Regions from separate parts of the Homo sapiens genome. Here region 1 is linked to region 2. A link means that fine-mapping ties the variant in region 2 to the expression of a gene that starts in the linked region. Tissue or cell type: fibroblasts. Region 2 holds a variant in brackets; the other region holds the start of a gene. All regions are shown on one strand. Distances are from middle to middle.

Evidence for each region. PIP is the estimated chance that this variant, and not a neighbour inherited with it, causes the effect.
Region 1: NPHP4 starts here. The variant in region 2 is fine-mapped to the expression of NPHP4 in fibroblasts (GTEx, PIP 0.97).

The regions. Positions count from the first base shown.
Region 1 is chr1:5,986,646-5,996,248 of GRCh38, forward strand. NPHP4 (nephrocystin 4) reads right to left here and starts at 5,780. Exons shown (of 30, transcript NM_015102.5): 1 at 5,599-5,780. It also overlaps a transcript of KCNAB2 not described here. RefSeq lists enhancers at 4,349-5,203, 7,080-7,129 and silencers at 5,280-5,459, 5,610-5,779, 5,820-5,999, 6,080-6,329.
Region 2 is chr1:5,895,178-5,904,780 of GRCh38, forward strand. It overlaps NPHP4 (nephrocystin 4), which reads right to left. Exons shown (of 30, transcript NM_015102.5): 16 at 9,440-9,603. Among named protein-coding and RNA genes, the nearest start is that of MIR4689, 37 kb to the left of the region's middle. RefSeq lists enhancers at 1,218-2,019, 2,020-2,819. The variant T/A (reference allele first, on the strand shown) is at 5,747.

The DNA.
Region 1 (9,603 bases), 91 kb after region 2:
TCACTTTTCCTGTGTATCCTTGTCAACTTTGAACTATGCGAATTACCTTTTCAGAAATAAAAATAAAATGGAGAAATAAAATCTACCTCCAGAGAACCCTCCGCCCCACCCCTACCCCCGTGGGCCAGACTCAGGGCACGACTCTCCTGACCTCTGTGGCTGGTTCCGGATGGGGACATGAAGGGATGTTTTATTCAGCTGTGTAAGTTGGATACCACACAAGGACACCAGGGGTGGGTGGCTGCTGAAATACAGTCCTAGCGTTAAGACTGTCTTGTAGGGGACCCAGGGAGCATGAGAGAGGGAATACAGCCCTTGGGCCAAGAGGTGGTCAGCCTGAAACTGCCCGGGGCCACCTTAGGACACACATAAAAACAAGCAGAGAGGAAAAGGTAGGAGTGAGGGCCACTGGGTCCCCATGTCATTATTAGAGACCTCAGTTGGTCACCCCACGACACTTCAGCTACATGAACAAAGTCTCTTGTTGCTAAAGCCATTTGGGGACAGGTTTCAGGTGTTACCAGCTTCTTGGTGGGTCTTGGCCCGTTTTGAGTGTTATCTGATCCTGTCCAGCCAGACCGGGATCTAAATCTTCTCTAGCCAACACAGAATCCAAAGATCTGAACCTCAAGAAGAGGTTGAATTCCGTAAACTAAAATGGCGAGTAAGGAGAAAAAGAAGTGGGTTTGGCCTTCTAAGACAGCAGCTCTCTAAGTACATTCCCCAAACCCAAGGTTCAACAGGATCCTGTCAGGGGCTCTACAAGGTCAAAACTATTTTCATGACACCCAGGTGTTATCTCTTTCACCATGGTGGCATGGTGGGGCAGAGGCAGCAGCAGGGAAAGCCACTGGGGCCTCACTCAACCCAAGGCTGGTTGGGTTGAGTGAGGTCCTCCCAACCTCTCACAGAAAAGAACAAGGCAGCTTCAAGTAAGAACATCCTTGGTGAAGCCGGAAAAACTATTAATCTTATTACTTCTTGACCTTTGAGTACACACGTTCTTAATTTTGTGAGACGAAATGGAAAATACACAACAAGCATTTCTGCTGCAAACTGAAAGGCAACAGTCATCCCCGGGGAAGCCTGGCTGTGACTGGGCTGCATGCTGAACACACCGCTTTTATTATTCAACACCATTTTCACTAAGAAGAATGACTGAGAGACAAACATGGGTACTTGGCAGACATCTTCTCAAACGTGAACAAAGTTAGCATGTCACTTCCGGGAAAACAACTGCAACAAAAATGGAGTTTCCAAGCAAAAATGAGAATTAAGAACATTTGTATCCTCTACCATGAGCCTACTAGCTTCACACTTCTTCAAGACTTTCCTGATGAGAGGGGCAGTGATATAACGTGATCTTCTAAGGTTACACCATTAAATGTGTCAATAGTTGGAAGGTCTGCATGACTCCGTGAACCAATATTTTCTGAACAATGCGTAATGGTACAAAATCCTGCAAGAAGAAAACATCCACCCAAAGTGCAAGACAGACCAAAGGAGTTTAATGTCAGAGCACGAAGAGTTCATTCACATGGTGGAGACTCTGCTTTAGAACAAATCCTTAAGAAACTTCTGCTCGTAGGGTTTCAATGCAGCAGCAAAGAATATCCACAATGACCCAAGAGACTCCTCCCTAACTAGATCGGGATGGATTTCCTTCACATACTTCAACCAAGGCAACACAAGGCAACAGACTGAGTACAGAAGCAAACAGGAGCCTTCAGCTGTCCTCTCTTAAGGAGACTGTAAAGATATTTGCAAGAATGCAAAAGAATCCCACTCTTCTAAATTTTTTTTTGTTTTGGATAATATAGTTGGTTTTTGTAAAAAATGTTTTTATGTTAACATGTCACAGCCTTATTTTTAAATAAATTAATATTTTTAACATTTCTCAGTTTTAACTTCTATGGCAGTAAACATTGGTAGATATAACTCACATAAACAAAAGTTCTTTGGGGTCCTCAATAATCTTTTAAAGGGTAAAGGGATCTGAGACCAAAAAGTTTGAGAAGGGTTGTGCTAATGGTTCACCCCCTGCATGCTCCCGGCATGTGTGGGAACCGAGAGGACATGACCAGGCAGCCTGAGAGGGGCCTTGGCCCAGGGTCCCGCCTCCACCCACAGTGCACCCAGACGCTGCATCCTTGGCCCAGGGTCCCGCCTCCACCCACAGTGCACCCAGACGCTGCATCCTTGGCCCAGCGTCCCGCCTCCACCCACAGTGCACGCAGATGCTGCATGTGGGCCAGGTATTCCTGAGGACCAGACTCAGTCTGGTCCTGTGTGAATCCAGCAGGCACACATGCTGGTTTGTTCCTTTTTGTTCTCTGTGGGCTATTTTTGTCGCTCAACTTCCCTTGTTTTGTGGAGGACCCTGACCCAATTCCATGTATGGGGAGAGCTGCTCCCCGATTCCAGCCAGAGACTGCAGTGATTGCTTCAAGGAGGAACACATGGCCCACACTGAGCCATCAGTCTTCCCCGGGAGACTTGAGCCCAGGATGTCTCTCCTCCAATGCCCACAACTGCCCACACCATGCCAGCCCAGAGCCCCAGGAGCCACCACAGGGAGAGCCGACTTTGGACTTCTGACCGGCCTAACTGGAAAAGAACAAATTTGTGCTACTTTTAAGCAACCAAGTCTGTGGGACTTTCTTACAGGAGCCACAGGAAATCATACAGCTGTCCACGACTTATAAGCAGAAGACACCTGACCAATACCAGCTCAAGGGCCATCTCCCCCAGGAGGGCTTCCCAGGTGCTCCCAGGGTCCAGGCCCCAGGCTCACATGGCCCCTGTGCTTCCCTTGGTCACATCATTCGTCACCTATCTTGTGTTGAATTGCTCGCTGGCCAAGTTCTTGAAGAAAGAAGCCTCATTCCTCCTGTGTTCTTGGTACCGTCACAACTCAGTAAATGGTCACGGAACCAAACAGAAGCTTTAGCAAAGCTACCCTCAAGCTTTTCTTTCCCACTGATGTTTTATAACATTCAGAAATGTATTCACACACAATGCAGGCCGTGATGGCCCCAGGTGGGGATTTCAGAGAGGAAGTCTCTCCTGACGCAGATGCCCATGCTCCTCACCTGCCCCAGATTTCTGACCCGGTGCCTCCTGCCCTCTCCCTGGGTGTCTGCAGGACTCAGTGCCACACTTGGCCCAAGGACACTGCTGAAGGACGTGCATACGCCAGTCGACCCTCACAGGGAGCATGAAGCATGCCGGCCCCCTGCTGTACTAGGAGGGCAGACACTAGGCGGAAGGGCATCCATTCCGAAAGCACCTGCCACCCACACGGAAGTCCTGAGGCTCGGGATGTGGAGGCAGGGCAGTCCTAGTCTGAGGGGCCACGGAGGCCGAGGTGACACCTGAGACTCTGCAGGTGGGAGCCCAAGCGCCCGCAGCAGCTCTCACTGCCATCCCAGCACCTCACAAACCTCTCCGGGTGCCCTTCCACCTGCTCCTTGCTCCTTTCCACCTCTGCTCTGGCCTCTAGGAGTCAAACCAAATGCTCCCTCCTCAGAGCGAGAGCCCCATCCCCCACCTCCGGCTGCTCCCACACAGGGCAGGTGACAGAAGAGCCACCACGCTTCACCAGGGCTGTGCTGTAGTCCTGCGAGACTGTGAGCTCCATGACACCAGGCTGGGTCTTCAGCAAAAGTCTTTTAAGGATGAAATACAAATGCCCTGGAGGAAGTGCAGAGGGGCCTTTGGGGCCAAATCAACAATAAAAGAGAAAATCGAGAAGGCTCCAGGTCTTGAACCCAAGAAAAGGGTACAGTGGGCTCTCCAGGGGAAAAAAAAAAAGAAGAAGAAGAAAATACACCCACTTTTAATGAGCCCCTGATGCAAGACAGGAACTCACATTCTATGGTTACTATTCCAACAACTCTGCCAAATGAGAATCATCATTATCGCCATCTTACAGATGAGAACACTGAGACTCAGAAAGGATAAACAGCCAATCCAAGGTCACACAGCTAGCTATTATAACTAGCTATTATAATAGTATTATAGATATAATACTGTAAGCTATTATAACTACCTCCCACTACCTCAATCAAGGAGGCCAGGAGAGGCCAAGGGAGAAGAGAGGCCCAGAGGGAAAAAGTAAGAGCACCAAAGGAACCCAGGGCTAATGCTGTCTCCTCTTTAACTTCAGGACAGATTCGCAGCCTCCCCACCTGTTTCCAACCTCCAAAATGAGAGCTGTGAAATCTCCTTGAGATCTCTGCTTCTGCTGATCTATTCAGCAACTATTTCCCGAGCACTTGTGTTCCAGTGCATAAGAAGGCTGTCAAATGTGCTGTCTTCAAGCATCTAGAAAGCCAGTGGGGGAGAAAGACAAGAAAGTGACTGTGAGCAGCAACAGGCCCCCGGGAGGGTGCAGAGGTGAGCAGGGCTGAAGGAAGATGCAGGGGGTGGGAGGCGCTGTCAGGGTCCGGGAAGCCTCCTTCCCGGAATGGAAAATGTGTAATGCCTGAGACCCAGATGCCTTGGGGAGCTTTTGGGGAAGCAGAGGTCTGATTAAGCACTGCCTGGAATTCCCTCATTCATGAGCATTCTTTCAGCACCTACCCTGCGCCCGGGAGAAACGGTCTTGAACACAGCAGACAAGCTCGCTACCCCCATAGAATGTAAAGAAACGGGGCACAAATTAGCATACAAAAAGACACAAGTGTGACCTACGGAAACTGCACAGAGGAGGTGCAACGAACGGAGCCCTGGGTTAGGACCGGGAGGCGCTGCCCACCATCAACAGAAATACTCCTCCTTTTGCCAACTACACACGCGAGAGGCTGGATTTCCTTCACAGACGTCCACCAAAGCCACACATCGCGACACACGGAGGCAGAAAGCAGCGGTCTCCTAAGAAGTTAGACACGAGGAATCTCGGGCAGCGAGGTGCCTGCAAGCCCGGGGGCGGGCGGGAGCAGCCTGCACGCGTGGGGAAGGGCACGCGGGAGCGGGTGGCGCCTTCCGGGCCGGGTCGGCCGGGAGGTTCCAAGGCAGGAAAGGGGCGCAGAAGGCCGGGACGGCGCCGGGTACAAAGCCTCGCAGGGACGCCCGAAGGCCGCAGAGCCACCGCGGGGAACTGACAGCCGGAGCCGGAGCTGGAGCCGGGGGGCGGGGAGGAGGGGCGGAGGGGCGCGGCCAGGCGGGGTCCGCGGACTCCGGCCTGGGAAGGATGCGCGCGGACTAGGGCGCGGGGAGCCAAGGCCCAGAACATCGGTACCGCGCTCCCTTCAGCCGAGGGGCTGCAGAGAGGCCAGGGGGCAGGGGGCAGGGGGCAGGGGGCAGGGGGCAAAGGGCAAGGGCAGAAAGGAACCCACGTAGCCAAACGGCACCCAGCGGCCCCGACCCCAAGTGTCCCGACGAGGGGGGACGCCTGCGACTAACGCGGGGACAGCCCCCGCCGCGCGCCACCGCCGCACCCCAGGCACCGGGCCCCCACGCAGGGACGGCGTGGACCACCCTACCCCCGAACCCCGAGGCTCTGGCCAACACTGAGGCCCCCTGTGCCTCGAGGCCGCGTCCAACCTCCCCCGCGGCGCCGGCCCACATGGTTCCGCCCGCCGCGGGCCGCGTTACCTAGGAGACCGACCCGCCGCGGCCGCGCCGGAGGCCACGGAGCCCACGCTTTTCAGAGAGTCTCCACTCGACGGACCCAGAGGCCCGGCGGCCGGTGCTCAACGGAGCCACAAGCCTGAGGACCGAGGACTGGCCGAGGGGCGCGCCCCGTCCGCTGCCACCCGCGGGAGGAGCCTCGGAAGGCGGCGCACCGCGCCGCACACTCAGTCCAAGAACCCGCCTCGCGTCACTGTCGCCGTCAGGGCCGCGGAGCCAATCAGAGCCCAAGTCGAGGGCTGCGCTTTGCGAGCGCCAGCCAATCGGTGCGGCGGCGGGCCCATCCTGATTTGCATGTCCGACGACCCCTCAACCAATGGTAATGTGACTGGCGTGAACAATAGCCAATCAGAAGCTGGAAGAGGCGTGGCCCCGGGCGTCCCACGAGGTGAAGATGCTGCTGGCGGAACCTGCAGGAGCTAGCGGGATTCGGGGGCGCTAAAGTCGCAGGGGCAGGGCGGGAAGGAAGATCCGGCGCGGGGCACAGGATCCGGAGCTGGAGCCCCCAGGTGAGTACCGGGGAGACCCCGGCGGGGCGCGCTTTCCACCAAGCTGCTCCGGGACGGCGGCGGCGGGTATCCGCGAGGCCCGCGCTGCGGCAGGCGCCGCGGTCCCGTCTCCATCTCTTCTTCCCCGGCCCTGCGTCCCTGCCTCCGCCGCTGTCTCACCTCCTCTCCAGCCTCCTCACCTCCTTCTCCATCGTCTCCCTTCCCCCATCCCTTTCTGTCTTTCCTTCCCTGTCCTCCCGCCCGCCCGACCCTTCAGCTCGCATCCCTGACCCCTGCCCCTGCCGCCGTCCCTCTTCCCGGTGCACCTCTTCCCCATCTCTGCCCGCTCCGGTCCTAGCAGCCTCGCCCTCCCCTTTCCTCCATCCTCCTCTCATCCCCTCTCCCGGCCTCTGCGCAGCCCCACCGGGGCGCTGCTGTTCCCGGTCCTCCCCATCTCTCCTCCTGATCGCTTCTCAAGGCTCATCCGTCGTTCTCGCTGCCTGTCCCTGTGTCGCTCCGGTCCCTTTCCCCACCCTCCCATTCTGCCCCCAGCCCCTCCGACCTCTCCCCGCGGGCACGCTCTCACCACCTTACCCTGCTCCCCAAGACTGTGACCCTGCTTCCTGCACCAGTTCCTCGGGCTGTTTACAGCACACACACCGCCACTTCTGACCCTGAGCCCCTACTCCTATCTTAAGCTTCTCCCTCCTGCCAGGCCTTGGCACAAAGCACTTCCGCACCTCCCTACCTGCTGCTGCTCCCAGGATGCAAAGACCCCACTGCTGCACCGCGTCCTGCGGCATTAGCAGCAGCCGGGGTACCTGCCCACCTTCCCACCCCGCCAACCAGCCGCATCCTGGTGTCCCTCCTCCTGGCATTTGTCCTGGGGGCTCTTACAGGGACTGTGCTTTGCCCGCAGCATCCCGGGGTGCTCCAGGTGGAAAGCCCCTTAGCACCTTTCCTCCCTGGCCACCGTCTCCTTCCCTCCCCACCCCCACTTTCCTGCTCAGCCTCACTTTGTGATTCAGCATTTTTGGGGTTGGTAACTTTCTTGCTTCCTGTCGTGATAGGGACCTGGCTACGGAGCTGAAGGCAGGGGTCTTGACCCTGCGGTTAGCAGGGCCACCTTAGGAACCAGACCTGAGCTGCCTGGTTGGGAGGGGGCTGAGGAGCTGGGGACCGCCACTGGGGGTTGTCTTTTCCTCCCTTTCATTTGTCTGCCCTGTGTTGAACTGTGTCCAAGGGGAGATGACATAAGTAATAGCTCTTGGGGAAGTGGGCTATTAGCATTTATGGAAATTAATACATCCACATCCGAGGAGCAAGAACACCAAGTTCAGGCCACAGCTGTCCCACTGTCTGTCGTTTCAGGATTTTTTCTTTCTCTGCAACTTCTCCTCCCCGACAAAAACCCCAGCCTCACCCCTCCCCTTTCCCCCAGTGCCAAGAGTAAGCTCCTGCTCTGCTAAGGAAGCCGCATTCAGGCCCCGCGTTGCAGGTTGCAGGGTTTGGGGACCTACGTGTGGAGAGTCACATCTGCCCACCTGATTCTCGCCTGGCGGCCGTGTCTGCTGCAGAGCCCTGTGCAGCTCCTGGCCCTGTGCTCTCGCAGTGTGGGGCCCTAAGAGTGCACTTGGTCCTCCAGGTCCTGTCATTGTCTCCACGGCCACACTCGGCCTCAGTGGCACTGACAGTGTTCGGGCCGCAGCACATCCCTCGAGAGCAGCATGGTAGGGGCTTCCCTGTTGACACCCAGGGCCATTTTTTTTTTCCCTGCGCCAGTCAGCAAATGCTTTGTAGGTGCTAGTCAACACCTGGGGGCTGAGCCAGGCACTGGAGTTGGGGGGTGTCGTGAAAAAGTGTGAAACCCTTTTCGTGTGTTTCTTGGTTGAGAACCGTCTTGGGTCTGGATTTGGAGCCTGGATGGGAAGCAGTGTGCACAGAAGCCATTGCACCCGGGAGGTGGGACGTGGGCCATGGCGCTAGAGAGCTGGAAAGGCCGAGGGTGCCATGGGCTGGCCAGCTAGAGAAGGCTTCCTCGCTTTCATTTTTCAGTCATCTTCTAAGACCCAAATGGTTCAGGAGGAAGCGAGTGCCACACAGTTTTGATTTGGCAGTTTCCGGCCTGGGCTTGGAGGGAGGGGCCTCCCCTAGACCTTCCTGTGTGTTGGTGCTCTGCCGTGGTAACTGGGAACACATCATCTGTGTGGAAGGAGAGCCTGCTCCCTCGCGAGAACCAGGGGACCGTGCTTCTGTTTCCAGGGACTCTGGCCAGGTGCGGTATGTGTCTGGTCCTCGGCTAAGTTCTCAGTGATATTCACGCCGCCAGAGGTCCCAGAGTGAATGTTTTCCTGGCGTCCCTGAATAAGGAGGCAGGACAGTGGGCAGCTCGGGGCGGCAATTCGAGAAGGATTGATGCCAGAGGTGTCTAGGGCCATAGACCCCATGTTCCCGCCAGTCCCCCTCCCACCACCAGGAGGACTTGGGTCTTGGCACCCAGCAGCCGGTCATCCTTGCTCTCAGAGGACTAAACGGAAGGACAGGCTTCTCCAGGGTCAACAGAGGCAGTGACGGAGCTGGGTTGGACCCCCTACTTCCTACTTATTTGAGCCCAGTTCATGCCTTGGCTGTCCGAGCTGGGGGAAGCCAGCACCCCGAGGACATGACCGGCTGTCCCTTCAGAAGGCCACTTGGAGGCATTGCTGACATTCATGGGCGCAGCCAGTGCCCTTGGGTGTGTCCAGGTCACTGGAGGGGCTTTTGGGACTGGGAGGTGCCACTACCATGGAGATTTCTCAGCGACTCAGTCCTGCCTGGCATGCAGGCCCTGGTGCAAGGGTACTGTTGTTCGTGGCCTTCAAAGAGATGGCCCCATAGTTAGAGAAGAGTGAGGGCACCAGGTCCGTGGTGGGATGAAGGAAAGGAGGGACCCTCCCCACACTGGAACTACACTCATGACCTCAGTTCGCCTCCGGCACTTGTAAACAACCCTGTGAGGGAGGCTGGATAGGGAAACTGAGGCACAGAGCAGCAGTGAAACTGATCCTGGCCTCCCAGCTAGTGAGGAAACCTTGATTCTGTTCCTGCCCTGCCAGAACTCTGTGAGAGGTGCCCCCTCCGCCATCACCTGAGCTCCATCGAATGCCTGAAATCCTCACCTCTGCAGGAGTGAGTCTCCCAAGAGGCCCTGGAGGCCCAGGCCCAGACCCTGGGGGATATGGAAGCACTCCTTTGTCGTGGCGTGGGAAGCCCCACACTGCTCTTTCCTTGGTGACGGGTGACCCGCCATGTTCAGGCCCCTCCTGGTCTATCTTCGGGTGAGTCTATTAAGGGATACACCATCTCCGCTCAGCCAGTCCCGAGGAGGCAAAGGGAACAGGACCCTCTTCCCCAGGAGAGAGCACACTGGGGGAGATGGGGTGGCACACCTGGGCTTCGTCCTGTCACTGCCCACTGGCTCGAGGCTTTCCTGCCTGCCTGG
Region 2 (9,603 bases):
GTCGTGGGGTGGGGGAAGGGGGGAGGGATAGCATTAGGAGATATACCTAATGTTAAATGATGAGTTAATGGGTGCAGCACACCAACATGGCACATGTATACAAATGTAACAAACCTGCACGTTGGGCACGTGTACCCTAGAATTTAAAGTATAATTAAAAAAAAATACAAAAATTAGCTGGGCATGGTGGCAGGTGCCTGTAGTCCCAGCTACTCAGGAGGCTGAGGCAGGAGAATCACTTGAACCCGGGAGGTGGAGGCTGCAGTTTGCCAAGATCGCGCCACTGCACTCCAGCTTGGGCAACAGAGTAAGACTTCGTTTCAAACAGAAACAAAACAAAACACAACAAAAAAACTGCATTAAGATGGACTTCACATCTATGGGACTGTAAAAATACCACCCGTTAACGCCCCATTTTGACGGTGAGCAGGAGGAAACCAGCAGCCCCACGGATTGCCAGTGGCCCCGGGCAGCGGCACCCGAGAGAGGGTGTGGGGCAGTGTCTGTCAACACCACTGAAGCCTGTGATTCCATTATCCCCTTTCCAGAACCAGAAAGAACCAAGGTTACTAATTGCTGAGATAGCGAAATACTAGAAATGACACAAACGTCTATTAGGAGACCGGCTGAATAAAGAGCAGCATAACCACCCCACAGAGCATGATGCGGCTACCGTAGAAACGGGCACAGGCGACATCTATGCAGCCCACAGAGCATGACGCAGCTACCGTAGAGACGGGCACAGGTGACGTCTGTGCAGCCCACAGAGCATGACGCAGCTACCGTAGAGACGGGCACAGGCGACGTCTGCGCAGCCAAACTTGGGCTATGACATTAACTGAAAAAAGCAGGGAGCAGAAGAGTGTATTTGGTATGTTACCACTGAATTAGAAAACAGGGAAAATAAAATGTAAATGTTTGCTTATTTTTGAAAAAACAAATCAGTAAAAACACTGGAAGGGTCAGCCAGAAACGAAAAGTCTGGTTACTGTTGTTAGGAGGCTGGGCAGGGGGAGGAGCCCACAGGGATGAGGGGAGCAGGGAGGCCCGAGCACACACTGGGCTACGGTGTTCAACTTTCAACCATGTAAATAGTCCAAAAAAATTAAAAAGGAAAGCAAACATAAAAGTGAAAACAAATTAAAATAAATGAATCATACTGAATATCAAACTGGAGCTAAGAATTATTTTGAGGGCTTTTGGTCACACTAAACCAATTCTGAACCCTCGGTGGGACAGAGGCCAAAAGGAGCTGCGAAGAATCTGACTTCAGCAGGACACGCACTGTTGACATTAAGTCAACAATTAACATCAGCAGTGTCATTGTGAAAATGCATTCTATACGTTGTTAGGCAAGATAAATAAGTAAATACATGATGAGAAACCATGATTTTCTGTGTAAGACACATACAAATAATAGAAGGAAATTTATGAGAAAAATTCTAAATCTGACTTAGGAAGATCAACATGAACTCACATTTTACATTTTCCCAGCTCTTCCTGGTGAAAGGTTTTGAAGCAAGAAGACCCAGAATCAAAGCACCCCATATCCTGATCTCTGAAATGTCATCCCCATTCAGGCAGACCAGGCTCCTCAGAGAAACGGGCCCTGGCTGGCGGCAGGGAGAGCACAAGATGAGCCTGGAACCGGCACTGCTCCAGAAAGCAGGACGCGCTCAAAGTCCAATCAGAGCCGGTGAAAGGCCGGAAGGGCTCCCGGAATAATAATGAGTGCAACCCCATGCATCGATGAAGATGCAGGAGACCGCAGCCACGCTCCAAAGACAAAGCAAAACAGCCGGACACCTAACACTGGGATCCCACTGCTGGGCTAACTATTCCACCGACTTCTCACTCTGAAAACTGGCAATTAAAGGGAAAGAATTAAACCTTTGTCCTGTCTTTGTGGAGCATGTATATGTAGTTCATCGCTTATCGGTAGGGAAAGTTCTTTTTTAACAAAGAATGTGAGCTAATAAAGGCAGAGCAGACCAAATGATAGAATTAGACAAATTACCATTTCAAAAACACCAATTAAATAACTGACGCAAGCAAAGCTCAGCCCAGGGTGTTAAAACAAGAGGTGGAAGGTTGCTGGGGACCAGATATTTGCATGAAGCCAAAAAATGTCGCCAAGAATTCTTCAGTCAGTTCAAAGGGAAAAAACTCTCTTTCTACAGGAGAAACCTGGGGGTGGGCACCTTAACCAAGCAACCGAATCAGCGTCGTAACAATGAGATAGTCTGACATTCGCGCCTCCTGAGGTGGTGGGCTGTGAAGCACACAGCACTGACAATGAAGTGTTCATGCTGAGATCCAGAATCAAACAGCTTTCAGCCGTCGCTCCCGGCATTCAAGAACTACGGGGGATAAAGCAACAAGTTCAACAACATGAAGAAGCAACCAGGTAAGCCCGGAACACGGGACGTTCTGCAAGACAGCTCACTTGGTCTCTCCTGAAAGCCAGTGTCACTGGAAAAGAATGCAGGCGACTACGAGATTAAAGTGATAATTACAAATACAATACAGGAAACCGGGCTGGATCCCAGATCAAAAAAATACACATGGGGGACAAATGGGGAAATGGTACTATGAAATTTGTGTTATCTTAAATGTGATACTAGAATTGCACATATATAAAAGGGTACCTTATTTTTAAGAGATGCACGTTGCTTATTTAGAGGTAGAGTGTTACCATGCATGTCAACAACTTACTTTCAAATAATTCAAGATAAACAGTTAAGCAATGTTCCAAAACATGGCACGGTTTCTGCAGGTGGGGACATATGGGATTAGGGCTCTCGCAGAAGGCCCGGGAAAGAGGAGATCCACTAAGGAAGAGACGGCAAGGCTGTGCTAGGTGGCCCGGAGCAGGACTGGAGGCTGGTCTGATGGAGATGCCTCTCGGCTGGGACAGCCCAGGGAGAGGAAATGGACCGCGTTCTTTGGAAGAACAGATGCTCTTGGCTGATCCAAAATTCAATTACTTCAGCTCTCACACTGAGGAGGGCCCCCACAAGACAAAAACACCAGGAGGAACATGTTAGGAAGCAAAAGGCCAGGACAGGAGCGAAGAAAACAAAAAGGGTTGAAGGCACCAAGCCCAGGGCCAAGGAGGGAACCAACACACGCAGGGGAGACCACGCCCTCGGCAGAGCCCCCCAAAAAGTGTAGGAAGAAGAGGTGATGAGAAGAAAGGCCACTCACAGCTCCAAACACCCAAACACGGAGAAAACCACTCTCGGGAGCCCTGGGCTCCTTGGCTCCTCCAGGCTCACGGGCGTGGCTGCCGGAAGCTTCAGTTCAGTAGGACCAGCGTGCAGGGCCTTGGCACGAGCCCCCCAGCGGCTCTGCCGGGCAGACAGCCACGCCTCAGATGCCGCTCTCTGAGTGGATCTTCCTCCTGATCGGGACATGGCAAAGGCCTGGGAAGCTGGAACCAAGGCATTCTCCCATCTACGCGCATTCACTCAGACACCTGAGTCTCTGGCAATGTCAAATTTTGGATTCTGAGAACATAATTTTCCTTAGGACAACTATTCAGGGCTGGGAATTGGCTTGTCTAAATTTGGTGGGTATGGGGCCAGTGCTTTAAAATCTTACATGTCCTATTAACTCTGGTGACGGGATACGGAAAGAATGCCTATCAATTCAAACCCACACATGCACACACACACACACACAGACAACACACTAGAAAATGGGCAGGGGACCTGAACACATGCCTCATGAACGACGATACCCCTAAGGCCAGCAGGCCTGTGAAAGGCACTCGGTATCATCAAGGAAGCTCCAACCACGAGATGCCTCTACATCAGGATGGTTCAAAGAAACAAAGAAAACCAGCGATCACCACGTGACTGGCGAGGACATGGCGCTGTCTGGGCTGCCTGTCTCCTGCTGATGGATGTGGAAGCTGGCGCAGCACGAGGGAAACCTGCTTGGCAGATCCACTAAACCTAACAACAGGTGCTGCTCCACAACCCAGCCGTTCACTACCAGGCATATCTCTAACACAACGGCCGTGCGCACCAAAAGCACACTCGCAGCAGCACTATGCAGAAGAGCCAAAAACTAGAACCCATTCCAACGCCTGTTTGAATGGAGAAGCATCACAGAATCACCCGACACTGGGCTTCTCTACAGCCAGGAAAACAGAAACGCTACTGCTATAGACAGAACAGGGACCCCACAGACAAGAGGCCAGCAAAAGAAGTGGGATTCAAAACAGAACATAAAACATGATCCCACCGAAGTCCAAAAAGGGGCAAAACTGATGTACAGTGGCAGAATTCAGAAGGGTGGTTCCCTTGGGGGAGGTGAAGGACTGCGGTGAGGGAGGCCTCTGCATCCTGTTCCAGAGCCCCTTCCGGGCTGGGAGGTGGTTACGCAGGTGTGTTCACTTGGTAAAATTTATACCTTTTATAAAAATTAGCTCAAAATGGATCACAGACCTAAATGTAAACCACAAAACTATACAACTCCTAGGAGACGACACAGAACAAAATCTAGGTGACCTCAGAGATGGCTTTTCAGATACAACCCATGCACAATCCATGAGAGAAATAACTAATGACCTGGACTTCACTAAAATGAAAAACTTCACTCTGCCAAACATACTGGTAAGAGAATAAAAAGACAAGCCATAGATAGGGAAAAAACATTTGCAAAATACGTATCTGATAAAGGACTTGCATCCAAAATATAAAAAGACATCTGTTCAGGTATCTGAGCAGAAATCTCAGGGAAGAAGATACACAGACAGCAAATAAGCACATGAGAAGATGCTCCACATCATAGGTCACTAGAGAACTGCAAATTACAACAACAAGACACCACTGCACTGCCTGCTAGAGCGGCTAAAATCCAAACCACTGACAACACCAAATGCTGGTGAGGATATGGAGCAACCAGAATCCTCATTCACTGCTGGTGGGAATGCAAAATGCCCAGCCACTTTGGAAGACAGTATGGTGACTCCTAACAAAACTAAACATACTCTTACCACGTGATCCAGCAATCACACTCCTTGGTATTTACCTGTGAGTTGAAAGATTATGTACACACAACACCCTGTACACAAATGTTTCTGACAGCTTCATTCAAAATTGCCAAAAACTGTAAACAACCAAGATGCCCTTCAAGAGGTGAATGGAAAAACAGGCTGTGGCACATACGTGCAATGAAGTATCATTCAGCAATCCAATACGTGAGTGAGCGAGACACAAAAAGCCATGGAGGAACTAAATGCACAGTGCTGGGGGGAAGAAACCAGTTTTGAAAAGCTACATACTACATAATTCCAGCTGTATGACATTCTGGAAGAGGCAACATGGAAACAGTCAAAAGAACAGTAGTGCCAGGGGAGGAGGGGAGGGCTAAATAGGTGGAGCGCAGGGGAGGTGTAGGGCCATGAAGCTATTCTGTATGATCCATCATGGTGGATCCATGATGTCATGTATTTGTCAAAAATCACAGACTGTATAATGCAGAATGAACTTTAGTGTAAACTATGAGTTTAGTTCATAATAATTTTTTAATACTGGTTCATCAATTGTAACAAATGTTACATTTGTTACATGGTGGCTCACGCCTGTCATCTCAGCACTTTGGGAGGCTGAGGCAGGAGGATCACTTGAGCCAAGGAGTTCAACACCAGCCTGGGCAACAAGGCAAAACCCCATCTCTACAAAAACTACAAAAAAAATATTAGTTGGGCATGGTGGTGCATGCCTGTGGTCCCAGC[T/A]ATGTGGGGGCTAAGGTGGGAGGATTGTTTGGGCCCAGGAGGTCGAGGCTGCCATGAGCCATAATTGTGCCACTGCACTCCAGCCTGGGTGACAGAGTAAGATCCTGTCTCAAATAAAACCCAAAAAAAAACAAAAAAGAATATGTCACACCAACGCAAAATGTTAGTAATAGGGGAAACTGTTGGGGTGGGGGGAGGTCCTACGGGAACTCTCTGTACCAGCTACTCAATTTTTCTGTAAACCTAAAACTGATCTAAAAAAATAAAATTACTAATTTTTAAAAATAATGGAACCATGCACTGGCAATCTGTCTTTACCGTACGCATGTTACAGTTCAACAACAACAACAAATATCTTTTAAGTGAGGCTTATGAGAGGCTCAGTCCTGAACTGATGCAACTACCAAGGCCCTAGGGAACCATGCCCGTCCAGGGAGAACCCTCCCACAAGCTGCGGCTGCTGAAGGAAGCCCAGACCTGCCCAGGCAGAGACTCAGATATGTAAGAAATTGAAATCAGTCGGGTGGGGTTTTTTTGGACTTCAACTTAAGAATTTTGGACTGTGAATTTTAATTCATAATGACAAGAAAAATTTGATTTTGGAGTTTCATTTCTTTGGACTTCAACTTGCAAGGAAATTTAATTTGGGGACTTTAATTCCTCTCTGGGAAATTCATCATGGAAAGGGGTTTATATTCAAGTCAGGAGCATCTCTAAGTGGTTGGCCTTTTTTATTGAATGGTCTCAACGCTATCATTTAACTTCGTTGCAGAGCCTCTGATGAGCTGTGCTGGATAAAATGACTGGATGGAATTTGGAATGGGAAACAGAGTGGGGAATGAGTCTTCAGCAGTGGGTACAGAGGAGCCTTGAGACAAATGCATTAGTCTGATCCATTTTACAGCCTTCTGGGGACATCAGTTGGACTGTCTACCAAAGGCCTCAGGAGGACTGAAAAAGGAAAGGTGGTTGGCTTAGTTGAAGTGATTCAGGAAGGTTGGAACCGCCCTGGTGGTGACCAGCCCCCTCCCCCAAAGACAAAGGCCACACCCCTGGTTGGCCATAAACGTAATGATGAAGGCCAGTGAGTTGAGAAAACCAAACCCTGGAAATGCTGTAGGAGCACAGCCTTCCCTGGCTTCACACCTCTATGCAAAGGAACTTCCTGTGGCCTCTCTCTGCCCAGCCCCCATGCCTCTCAGGGCAAGAGCAGCTCAACTGACTGGGGATGGGGAATAGCCTAACTGAGCTAACTAACTAACTAGGCTGCTCACTCCTCCTCCCCACTCTCTTCTTTTCAGATCTGCCCACAGGAGAGAATGCAACAGTCCGAGATGTGCTTCCAGGCATGCAGAGAGGCGAGGGCTCACCCCAGGTGCAAAGCCTGCTGCTGTCTGGCCAACCTCCACCTGCATCAAAGGCCATCCACATCAGGGGCTGGCGCCAGTGGGCACAGCTGGCTCTCAGACCAACCAAGTCCTACACCCTCTTTATCATGAATAAATGCATGATAAAGAAAGTGATATTTTCATCTCCGCCATCTGCCTCTCTTGACCGACTGTGCCCATGGACAAGAAACAAGAAGCATGCCCTGTTGTACCTGGTGACCCTGGTGCCCAACTGTTTGGTTGACCCGTTCTATTGTTTTGTCTTCTAAGCATTTACACTTATCAAATTTTTTTCCTTCTACTTTTACTGGGTTTGTTCTGTCTTTCTCCCCAAAACTTCTTAAGTTGAACAATTAAAACAATATCTTAAAGAGTACCTTTCTTCTTCACCAACATAGGCATTTAAAACTGTAAATTCCCCTGTAATTACAATTTTACTTGCATCTCCTAAGTTTTGATATGCAATATTATTTTGTCATTCAGTTTTAAATAATTACGCATTTCTATTTTGAGGTCTTCATTGACTCATGGAATAATTAGAAGCACATTTTAAAATTAAAAAAATAAAAGCAGTTCAGAGTGGTTGTAGGGGAGGGAGTGACTGACTTCTGATCTTGTGGCATTATGGCCAGAGAAAGTTATAAAATTAGATTTGATACCGATTCTCTCAGTATAGGGTGATGCCTGCTTGGTGAGCTAAAAAATATATATGAATGATGATCAGTTTTTCTAAGTTTCAAAGTATGCTTTAAAATAATGCATATTCTCTAAACGGGATGTACAGGTTTTCTCAGATCACCTTTTTAAACTGTATTTTATAATATCCTTATTAACTTGTTTCTGTTTGATCAATCTACTGAGAAGTATGTCTAGAACTCCCATGATTGTGGAGGTTTGCCAATTTCTCCTTATAAGTCCATCAAGTTCTCCTCTCTATCTTGAGGCTACGTATGTTAGAAGATCGCGGATTCAGAACTGTTTCTTTTCCTAGTGAATTACTTTCTTGGTTATTGTTTACCAGCCTCCTTGATCCCTAGCGCTGCATTTGCTTTGTGTCTCTGCTGTCAGGTGCCACTGTTAGGCTACTTCATTTGAGGTCAGCATTTTAACATCACTTTTCCCATCTGCCACTTTCTACCTCGAGAGGCGGCAGTGTTTCAGACCCCAGCTGGGTCCCTTATGAGCTGAGTCACTGACCAAGATGGGGAAACTGACCATCAATAAAAATATCAACATGTCAGGTGTGTTTCTATTCAATGTAGCTTCAATCTATTCGTTTACAATGATACCCGAAGAAAAAAAAAGTCATTAGTCCCCATCCTTGAAGGATGCCAGGGAATCATGTAATTACTTCAGAAATTGGCAAATAAAGGGAAGAATCAAGTATTATCCAGCCTTTCCTATACAAACTGCACCTCAAGGTAAGCAAAAAGTTGATGCCAGGAAGTTTCTGGTTTTGGAAGCATCCCAGCTAACAAACAAGGGAGGTGTTCTAGAAGCAGAACGTCACCTCTGCACAAATGACACAGCGGTGGGCACAATGGCTGCTGACGCAACACAAAGAGAAGCAAGCAGACGCCAAGGGCGCAGCGGAGGTGCAGGAGGTGGCGCAAACGTCACCTGCTACAAAGAACTCTTGCCAAAAACAAAAAAAAGCATCTAATCATGCATCTAGATCTAACTCCCAATTTACAGCTAAAGAGGGGACAGAACAACACCTTTATGTTACCACCAGGATACAAAAACAGAATCCAGACTGTGGGGTGGACGCTCTACAGTACAATGTGGCTTCTTCAATAAATACATAAAAAAGAAACAACAGAGACAGGTACGGTGGCAGCAACTGCAGACAGAGACTGAAGAGTCACACTGCTCCATGACCAGTATGGACCTTATTTCTGGACAAACTTAAAAAAATGTTATGAGGTTACTAGCAAAATTTTAACATTGGCTAGATATTTGATGATATTAGGAGTTATTATTTTAGATGGGCTATACCCCTTAAGTTTATGTTTTTCAAATGAGAATTCCTAATTTTTTAGATATACATAAGGAAATATTCATACATGAAATTATATAATGTCTGGGATTTGCTTCAAAATAACCCTGGCTTGGGGGAGGACGCTGGGTTGGGAGGCAGCTGAGAGCTGCTGGGGCTAAGTGTTTGCTGCACTGGTCACCGTATGATTCTAATGTTGCATATGTTTTAAACTTTTCATAGTACCACTTATTTAATAACACTGACAATTTACACACACAACTCAGTACAGAATGTCTTGCCTTTGCCATGCACATGAGTACTCACCAGCATCAAAGGTGCCATCTCTGCTCACAGGCACGAGGATGTGGGTCAGGGCGCCAGAGCTGGGCTGGCCGGCCTCATCCAGCTGGACCAGCTGCAGTCGTGGCGTCGTTGCGGGTGGGAAGCGGTAGAACTGGAAGGTGAAATACACAGTCTTTGGCCATGAT